Regions from separate parts of the Homo sapiens genome. Here region 2 is linked to region 1. Evidence: fine-mapped expression QTL. A gene starts in region 1. The other region holds a variant in brackets. All regions are shown on one strand. Distances are from middle to middle.

Region 1 (5,388 bases):
ATACTCAGCAGTCCCAGCCCACCACATACTCCTTCTCTCCCTTTACAGTTTCCCTGGTCACTCACTTCTTGTAGTCCCTTTTCCGTCCATCCTGTCCCCTTTTCAGTTTCTGTTTTAACTTCTCCTTACATACCCAGTTCTACAAACAGCATTATGAGCTCAGCCACCCTCCAGTTCCTGTTAAAAACCACTAGAAATATAATCCAAGGGCTGGGCGAGGTGGCTCATGCCTGTAATCCCAGCACTTTGGGAGGCCGAGGCGGGCAGATCACCTGAGGTCAGGAGTTCGAGACCAGCCCGACCAATATGGTGAAACCCTGTCTCTACTAAAAATACAAAAGTTAGCCGGGCTGTGGTGGCGCACGCCTGTAATCCCAGCTACTCAGGAGGTTGAGGCAGGAGAATCGCTTGAACCCTGGAGGCAGAGGTTGCAGTGAGCCGAGATCGTGCCACTGCACTCTAGCCTGGGTGACGGAGGGAGGCCCTGTCTCGAGAGAGAGCAAGACAGATGCGAACCATATTTGCAATTTTATATTTTCTAGTAGCCACATTTTTAAAAGTAAAGAGAAACTCATGGAATTATTTTTAGTAATATATTTTACCCAATATATCCAACATGTTACTTCAATATAAAATCAATATAAAATTATTAATGATATTTTAAATTCTTTCTTCATATTAAATTTTTGAAATTGTGTGTATATTTTACACTCAGCATATCTCAATACAAACTAGCTGCATTTCAAGTGCTCAATAGCCACATGAGGCTGGTGGCTACCAGATGAAACAGCACAGATCTAGACTCTAATGAAAACGGATTTAAAAAAAAATAACTTTTGTTTATCTGTATTCTTATTCTTCAACAGACACAAATTGCATGCATTTCTGTATTTTTACAACTTGCTATTTTAAATATCTTTGGCATATCTTCACATTCATCCTCTAATGCAAGTTAGTTTTCTAATTTTTTTAATTTTTTTTTTTTTTTTTTTTTTTTTGAGACGGAGTCTCGCTCTGTCGCCCAGGCTGGAGTGCAGTGGCACCATCTCGCCTCACTGCAACCTCCGCCTCCCGGGTTCAAGCGATTCTCCTGCCTCAGCCTCCCAAGTAGCTGGGACTACAGGCGCGTGCCACCATGCCCGGCTAATTTTTTGTATTTTTAGTAGAGACGGGGTTTCACCGTGTTAGCCAGGATGGTCTCGATCTCCTGACCTCGTGATCCGCCCGCCTCGGCCTCCCAAAGTGCTGGGATTACAGGCGTGAGCCACCGCGCCCGGCTGCAAGTTAGTTTTCTAAATGGCACATGTCACATCAGCATCTGTCTTCACTTCGATATATATATTCATATTTAGCTCCTATCTGTTCCACTGCCTCAAGACATTCTCCCTGTTCCCTGCCTCCTGCCACCTTCTCCCTCTGCACATCACTGGCTGTGAAGGTTCAGATGCCCAGAAGAAACGTTTTCCACATCTTCACCACCTCTTCACACTAACCCATGCACAATTTCTAGCTCTGCTTTAGTAGATCTAAGGTCACTGACTCATGACTCAGAAAAGTCAAATGCAAATCATAGGAAAAGCCTGTCTTCACTGCTTCAAAGTTATGTTTACAATAGGCTTGTTATTTACTTTTACTTAAAATTAGAAACAGTCGAAAAAAATGAAATGCATGGCCTACTTTGGTTCCTTTTCAAAATAAACTGGCCTAATGGTTCTCCACAAACACAAGCAACTCAATTTTTAATCAAAAAATGTACTTCTTGCCTCAAAGACTTTACTAAAATAATGTTTTTGGTTCTTAACTATAGAAACAGTTTCACCACTGGAAAATGTGAACATGAGGTAGATACAGCTTAAGAAGTTAAAAGTCTTGAATTAGGAAATTAAGGTGTTGTCATTGACTTTAAACACCTATAGACTTTGTAATTCATATTACAGTTTGGCTTCCCATTGCTCGAAGTGTTTGCCTTCCTAATAATGACAGACTTGCTGTTCTCCCCCAGGCTCTAAAAGGTAGCATGTGGAACCCGGGGGAGTTATGAGACCTGGATTTGGGTTCTCACTGCCAGTTGACAGCCAGATATATGATCTTGGCGTCCATTCGCCCCGCTGGCCTCAGCCTTCCTGCTGTAAAAAGGGGGTTGACAGCAGGCTCCTTAAGACTGCCTCCACCTCTGCCCCCCGACCTTAGCTCATCCTCCTCTATTCCATTATCCCTGAAGCATTTGCCTCCTCATGTATCTCCTTCCCAAAAGACAAGATGGCTGGCAGCACGGAAGTGAAAAGGGAAAGAAAGGCTGTTTAAAAAAAAAAAATTCTAAAATGAGTCACCTTTCAAGAATTTCCCATTTCCTCATGCCTGGGTGCTTCCTCGTGTCGCTAAATCAGTTCTTCCAATGAAACTTGATCTAAGAACCTGGTATTTGTTATGTGCACTGCTCTTGGATGATGTTTACAATGTGCACACATCTCTTTTAAGAGCTTGTAGGTATCAAACGACCTCCAGGTTGTGCATCAAAAAGACATCAGCAGCCACAGAGTCAACTTTAGTTGAGCCTGGAGAAAATCATACAAAACCGTAGAGTTTTAACTAGGTTTTGTATCATCTTTTGATAAGTTAGGAAAAATAATTACAGCTCTCCAAACTTCCCACTTAACAACTCCCAGGACCCTGCAGCACCCTAAAATCTAGCCAGCTCCAAGAATCACTCTCTACTCCATACCCGGATGAGCCTTGACTCACACTAATTCCCTCCCTGAGGCTTAAGTCAGGGGGCAGCTGATGGTTGTGGTCTGTGCTGCTTCCGCCTGGCCTATTTTTCATGCTGCCATTTTGAATTAGCATAGGTTTCCTCCGCAACTGATGCATCTTCTAACCAGGCTGGGAACACAACACGCGCACACGCGCACACACACACGCACGCACCCACCCCACCCGGCTGCCGGACGCAAGCGTAAGTCAAGGACTTGCATGCTAGAATCAGACAGAAAATCCAGAAAAGCCACGTTATTTAACAGAACCCTACAAGGTCAGCTTTGAGTCAAAGCAGGTAACAGTTTCCTTCGATGTTTTCATGGACATTTTTATTCCCAAATCCGAGTTCTCGCCAATTCTCTAAAGTTCAAGCGCCCCTCCTGCTTTGCAGACCACATTTCTCTCGGCCCTCGCGAGTGAGGTCGCCAAATACTCGACGCCTCAAGAGCGAGCCGAGGAGGCAGAGGCCGACCAAGCCGGCCTCTCGGCAGCCCCGCCCGGCGCCCCGCGGAGAACGCCCGGGTGCGGCTCGAGGGAAGTTGTGTCAAGTCCCACGCGCGGCCCGCGGAGAACCCAGGGGCGGCCCGCGCGCGTCGGCCTAGCGGGGAGGGCTGCTCCGGGACACGGTGCGGCGGCCGCGGGCGAGTTGGACGCGCTGGCAGAGCCGGGCCGAAGGCGGCGGGCGTCTCCGGGCAGCCATGTTCGCGGCGCCCGCCCGCGCAGCAGGTACGGCACCTCGGGGAAGGTGCCCGGCTCGCCCCAGACCCCAGGGTGGCGAGGCCAGGGGCCCACAGGCACATCCCAGTGGGCAGCAGGTTGGCTGCCAGGAAAAGGAAACCCAGGAAGAGCAGCGCGGGGAACCCGGCTGCGGTGCGGGAGCCCGGGGCCGGCATCCCTCCACTGCACCCCCGCAGTCCCCGAGCCGAGTCACCCCGGCTTCAGGCCGAGGCCACCTCTCCTCTGACCGCCCCCAGGCTCCCAGCCCGCCCGGGCCAGCACCGGGAATCGGCCTGGGGTAACGCTACCCGCGGGTTCGGAGGGACAGCGGGAGGAGATGAAACGCAGGAGGTGGCGATGGCGGGTGGGGTGAAACCGCCGGGAAAGCAGCGCTGCAAACGCCCTGCGCTCCCAGACGCGGCTCACCTGGGGCGGCGGGCTCCGGGCTCCGCTCTCCGCTCTGCGGTGCTGAGGCTGCGGCCGCCGAGGGTGCGGGTGCTGCCGGGTCCGGATTACTGCGGCGACCTCGGGGGCTGCAGCTGCAGTGGCGGAGGCGGCCGCCGGGCGCTTCCCCCTACCCAGACTCCCGGCGCTGGGGCCCGCCGCCCCCCGCAGCAGCTGGCCCGACTCACGTGACCGCGGGCCCACCCTCCGCCTCCCCCACCCCGGCCCCCGGGGCCCCGCCGCACCCCGCGCGTCTGGCTGCACGGGCCGCGGCGCTGCTCACCGTCGAGTAGGGAGGGGGCCTGGGAGCTGGAGGAGCGGCCGAGAGGGCGTATCTCGCCGCAGAAAGTGGCCCCCTCTTTGCTAGATTTTTATTTCTTGGTTGTGGCTCTCAAAAGGGAAAACCCGGGCTTCAAGGAGCCAGGCCCAGCATCCTTTTGGCGCCTCTTCCCGACGTTTGGTTGCTACGTCCGGGCCTCGGCGCCCACACAAGATTTCCCCGGAGAGAAATGTGTCCTGTACCTTGTTGACTCGCACGTCCAAGTCGAGTCCCTGGTTTTAAAAGTGCCGTCCTGTACCATGTTGGTAAGCCAGACCCTGTCCCAGGTACTTGGACATTGTGGCCTAGAGAGGTTAAGTAACTTGCCCAAGGTCACACAGCACGTAACTAAGCCAAGATTCCATATCTGGGTTAATAAAGTTATGTACAGGGACTTGTGTGTTGTGTGTCTGTGTGTGTGTGTGTGTGTGTGTGTTGATGCCAGCGTCAACTCCATCTTTTATAAGTAAATAAGAAAAGACTATCTCAAAAGATATGAAGACGTAATTCAGAGGAAAATAAATGCAATTCTATCCTGGCACACGAAAAGATATTCAGGCTCACTTAACTGCAAATCAAATATGTGGGGTAGCATCTTCCACCAGCCAGATTAACAAAAATCAAAACATTTTGAGTCTTGCTTTGTCGCCCAGTCTGGAATGCAGTGGCAGGATCTCGGCTCACTGCAAACTCCGCCTCCTGCCTCCCGCCTCCCGCCTCCCGCCTCCCGGGTTCAAGCGATTCTCGTGCCTCAGCCTCCCAAGTGGCTGAGACTACAGACCCACGCCACCAGCCTCGCTAATTTTTTTTGATTTTTAGTAGAGATGGGGTTTCACCATGTTGCCCAGGCCGGTCTCAAACTCCTGAGCTTAGGCAATCCGCCTGCCTCTACTATCCAGCTTCCTTTAAAAAGGAGAATGATCTTTATTTGCTAATACAAAACTATTTCCAACCTATACTAACTAAAGAAAAATAAAAAGCTAGGTGCAGAACGTTGTGTGTGTTATTTGTGGGAAGAAAATATATATGTATGTCTGTACTTATTTTTGTAAATGCACAGAGTATCTTTGGAAGAGTACGTAAGAACCTGTAATAGATGCCACCAGGGAGCAGAACTGGGAGACTGGGTGCTGGGGAGAGAAGGAGACTTTTTT
Region 2 (5,388 bases), 130 kb after region 1:
ACAGAATGAAACTCTGTCTCTTTAAAAAAAAAAAAAATTAACATATATGCTTGACTTAACAAGCCTAAAGTTTATCAGTATCTCTACCTTTCTCCTAAAATATACAAATAACCTTAGAACATTTTAACACCAGTCACTTGCCTCTTGTCTGACATGTTTTTGTCTTCTGATAGTTTTGTGCCTCCTTATGTCCCTCAAATTCATCATCATCATCATTACTATTAGCAGTAGGAGTGGTGTTTTCTACAGTCAGTGGTTGCTCTGGTTTACCCACATTTGCTATTTCTTTGGAGATCATTAGTTCTTGCTTTCTGCATCTTTCTTCTGGTTTTGATTTGCTCCTTCTGGAAGTAAAATGTTCCCATAGTAACATTTTCTGGAAGGGCCTATGAATGGTAAACTCAGTCTTTGCCTAAAAATGTCTTTTTTCTGCCTGACTTTTGAATTATAGTTTAGCTAGTTATAAAATTCTAGCTTATCAGTTATTTTCCCTCTATATTTTGAAGATATTTTTTCTGTTGTCTCTTGGCCTCTGACTATTGAGTACTGTGCTGTCAACTTATTTTTTGCTTCTTTATAGGTAGTCTGTCCTTTTTACCTCTGGTGGCATTTAGGATCTTCACTTTGTTTTGTGGTCTGCAGTTTCCCTATTATGTGTAGTGTAGATTTATTTTCATTTCTTATCTTTGGTCTCAGTGCATGCTTTTATTCTGCAGATTCTTTCCTTACAATTCTAGTAGAGTCTATGTTATTATCTCTTTGAATACTACCACCTCACTATTCTCCCTATTACTGTTTCTGGAATTTCTATTAAATACATATTGGACTATCTCATTCCTTAGGCCTCATAACCTCCTTTTAACATTTTCCATCACTTCATCATATTGCTGCACTTAGCACAATTTCCTCAGATGGGACTTCTAATTTACTAATTCTCCCTTCAACTTCTTTTCAGCTTACAAACTTTTAGTAGCTAGTTCTCATTTCTACACATTCTAATTTGTTTCTGTTCAAAATATTACTTTTTTTTTTTTTTTTTGAGACAGAGTCTCACCAATGCCCAGGCTGGAATGCAGGGGCACAATCTCAGCTCACTGCAACCTCTGCCTCCCAGGTTCAAGTGATTATCCTGCCTCACCCTCCCCAGTAGCTGAGATTACAGGTGCACACCACCATGACTGGCTAATTTTTGTATTTTTAATAGAGACAGGGTTTTGCCATGTTGGCCAGGCTGGTCTTGAACTCCTGACCTCATGTTATCTGCCCACCTCAGTCCCCCAAAGTGCTGGGATTACAGGAGTGAGACACACCTGCCCTACTTTTCTTTTTTTTGTTACAATAGTAGCTAAAACTTACTCTGTGCCAAGCATATGTGTACTCTTCTAATCACTTTACATATATTAACACACTTAATCCTTACAATAACCCATTGATATAGATACCATTAGTATACCTACTTTACAGATGAGGGACTTGAGGCACAGAAATATTAAGTGACACACCCAAGGTCACCCAGGTGGTGGTAGGTGATAGTGACGAGATTTGAACCCAGCACTTTAGCTTCAGTTTCTGCGCTCTTAGCTACCGTGCAACAGTGCCTCTCATGAGGTTTGTTCCGTTCTTGGTGTTTTAATTACATCTTTTAGGGCTTTAATAATTTTAAGCATGTTTATTTTACATTCCCTTTCCAATTGTCATTCTATTATATGAAGTTTTAGGGTATCTTTTAGTGCTATTTATTGTGTCTGCTGACTTTTAAGTCAGCAGGATTTTGTCCTCCTGCATTTCATTATTTGTGTTTGTGAGCTTATCTTTAAAGAAGGCTGTTTTTCTGTGAGAATCCCCGTGGCCTGGGTTGTAAATGTGTCCCTCAAGAGCAGTTTTGCATTTGCCACAGAAAGATCACCAGATGTGGAACTCTTTTTTGGCTGTTTATCATTTTGGGAGTCATTTATCATCATGGTTCCTGGACCATCTGCAAATTTGAACCTCCAAATTTGAGGTAGAAAAAGACCCTGAGAATTCATTTCTCAGAGGACATTTTTCCCCATCCAGACAGAGGCATATAAATTCTTTTTTGTCTCTCCGTGCCAGTGCATCGATGGTTCTCCTAATCTACTCTTTTCAGTGTGGGTGTAGCCTTTTAAAAACTGCTGCAGTTTTTTAACTAAGCCCAGCTGTGGCAGCATCCCACATCCTTACCACTCACTTCTCTCTTTGTTACTGACACACCTGGAGACTTCCTTTCTCTGTTGCCAGTTCATTCATGCATTTAAAATAATTTTTGCTGTATTTTGTCAAGCATTTTAAGGCAGTATGGCAGGAGAGTTTTCAGACTGTTTCCCCACATCTTCTTTTAAGAAAGTTAGGAGTCTCATTCCACCCTTTAAAAAAAGTATGATGTTAATTATTTTCTCTTGGTAAGCCTGATTTAAAAATTGGGGACATCCATAGAAGTGTTAGGAGGAAAATGCAAACTACTCATTGTACCACTACCTAAAAATGGCCATGTTTTAAATGTTTTCTCCTTTTTGTATTATATGTGTTTAGATATACATATATACATGTATATATGTATGCATATGTATACACACATGTATACGTGTATGTAGACATATGTATACATATGTACACATACACGTATACATGTAGACATATGTACACATGCACGTATACATGTAGACATATGTATACATGCACGTATACATGTAGACATGTATACATACATTTATACATGCACACATACATGTACACATACATGCACACATGTACACATACATGTATACGTGTATACATACGCACATACATGCATACACGTATACATGTATACATACGCGCATGCATGCATACACGTATACATGTATACATACGTGCACATACATG[T/C]ATACACGTATGCATGCATACATACGTGCACATACATGTATACACGCATGCATGTATACATGCGTGCACATACATGTATACACGTATGCATACATACGTGCACATACATGTAGGCACGCATACATGCGTATACATGCATGTATACATGCATGCGTGCGTGTACATACATGTATACATGCACACATACGCATACATGCATGCATACATGTGCATGCATGCATGTATGCATACGCATACATACGCATACATACGCATACATACGTATACATACATGTGCGCATACGCATACATACGTATGCATACGTATACATGTATACATACGCATACATACGTATACATACGCATACATACACGTATACATGTGTATACATATGTATACATACGCATACATACACGTATACATGTGTATACATATGTATACATACGCATACATACACGTATACATGTATACATATGTATATACGTATACATGTATGCGTATACATGTACACGTATACATGCATACATGTATGTATGTATACATGTATGTATTCATACATGTATACATATATACATACACATATGTGTGTATGTATATATGTACTATATAACTTGATTCATGTGTGAATATCTGTTTACATGTGCGATTTTTCACCTAATAGTGTATTGTATTTTTCTTACATCATTAAAATTCATTAAAGAACAAACAACTGAAGAAAAACTTCTGCCTTAGAAGCTTAAGGATAAATGAGGGGCATCTTCTTGCATATATTTGATTAGCTGTTCTGCAAATCTACTCTTCTGCACCTAGCAACCTAGAAATAAAAAAGGGAATAGCTGCACTAAGAGCCCTAGAATCCTAATTAACATTGTGCCGCTGATAGATGCCTTACATTTAAAGCAAGATCATGTTGTTTCTCTCCCATATAAATGATTTTCATTGACTGTTCTGAATAACTTTATATTTCCGGTCTCCAATTTGCTGCAACTAAATCTTAGCTACTCCCCCATTCTGGCTTTCTTGTTGAAAATTGCTCTCTGAGCAAAACCTGGAATGTCTGAAGTCGTTCCCCAACACAGTTGCTAGAGATGGGCTGTGAAATAACAGAATTTAGCAGCAAGTCTCTCCACAGGCCAGTGTATAAAAAGGATCTGAAACCTAGGCTGGGAATGACAAGTATGCTAGAGGGAATGGCACTCCCCTGCCCGCCTTCCAAAAGCAGTTTGGCTTCAGGAGAGTGGGTGTGTGTTTCACTTGGTCTTGCAAATGTAGGTCTAACTTTGTCACCGCCTTTCCGTCTGCCTTCCAGCATCTGTGCCCAGTTGACGTAATGACTGTGGAAGGCAGATTGAACGTTATTAAGGAGACAGCCTGGAAATTGTGAGAGGCAGGCAGGGTCAAGGATAGAAAGCATTTTTGGGAGACTGGGGTTCTCAGCTCACAGTAATTGAGAAATCGATTCAAACTCATGCCATACAATGAAATTATATGTGTGTGTGCATTTCCTAGAAGTTACCCCATGGCCCTTCCCACTTAAGTTAGCACTATACAATGTCTTGGCCAAATGAATTTGAGTTCCAAGTTAGGTTCTTGAGACTTAAATTAGTTCCAAGTTAGTTTCTTAAAATTTGTAGTAGAAATAATAGCCTTAAAATGTAATTTATTAAAAATTAAATTTAGGGCCAGGCACGATGGTTCCTGCCTGTAAGCCTAGCACTTGGGGAGGCTGAGGTGGGAGGATTGCTTTAGCTCAGGAATTTGAGACCAGCCTGGGCAACATAGTGAGACCTTATCTCCACTAAAATAAAAAAATTAGCCAGGCATGTTGGCACACACCTGTAGTCCCAGATACTCAGGAGGCTGAGGCGAGAGGGTCACTTGAGCCCAGGAGTTCAAGGCTGCAGTGAGCCATGATCATGCCACTGTACTCCATCCAGCCTGTGTGACAGAGCAAGACCCCCCTCCAGAAAAAAATTAAAATCTTTAAAAAACAACAGTTTTGATTTACAACTGCCAGAATTTATGAGAAAAATAATTTTAAGTTTCAAAAGTTTAGTGTGCACACTAAAAAAATGAAGGCACAAAGCTTATGTTGCCAACAAGATATTAGAAACAGAAGTATAACTACACAACTCTACTTCCTGTAGATTAAAGATTGCCAAGACTTTATTCATATTTTTATTTTTTAAAAAATTTAAAAACTGAGACGTGGATTCATTTCTAACAGGGACACACAAATGTCTGATGGTGGCCCAGGAGGGCTGTCACTCAGAATCAGGCGGGTGCAGAGTGGCCTGCAGGACATGATGACCCAGCATGAGACAGGATGCATCACATCTGGGTGACGCCTCTCTCCAGGGGATCAGCCTGGACTAAATGCCTCTCCTGGGCCAGGATGCCCAGCAAGCCCCGAGATGCCTCCTGGAGAGAAGGAAGTATGTGAGAGTATCCTGAGTTAAGTGAGATCTAAAATGCCTGAGAAAACCCTGAAATGACTGAGTCTATCTGGAACTTATTTGATTGTT

Which allele goes with the higher level. Positions count from the first base shown, and alleles are read on the strand shown. Sizes are in standard deviations (SD) of each study's normalised expression.
In carriers of allele C in region 2, the expression in prefrontal cortex of the gene that starts at base 2,912 in region 1 tends to be higher than with T alone (small effect, 0.40 SD a copy in BrainSeq).

What was found. PIP is the estimated chance that this variant, and not a neighbour inherited with it, causes the effect. A credible set is the group of variants that fine-mapping cannot tell apart.
Region 2: its variant is the best candidate, but not a certain one, in a credible set for the expression of FKBP14-AS1 in prefrontal cortex (BrainSeq, PIP 0.68).

The regions. Positions count from the first base shown.
Region 1 is chr7:29,985,745-29,991,132 of GRCh38, forward strand. FKBP14-AS1 (FKBP14 antisense RNA 1) reads left to right here and starts at 2,912. Exons shown (of 3, transcript NR_187577.1): 1 at 2,912-3,049. SCRN1 (secernin 1) reads right to left here and starts at 4,057. Exons shown (of 8, transcript NM_014766.5): 1 at 3,898-4,057. RefSeq lists silencers at 3,284-3,403, 3,494-3,763, 3,774-3,823, 3,844-4,183.
Region 2 is chr7:30,112,880-30,118,267 of GRCh38, forward strand. It overlaps a transcript of PLEKHA8 not described here. Among named protein-coding and RNA genes, the nearest start is that of MTURN, 19 kb to the right of the region's middle. The variant T/C (reference allele first, on the strand shown) is at 2,884.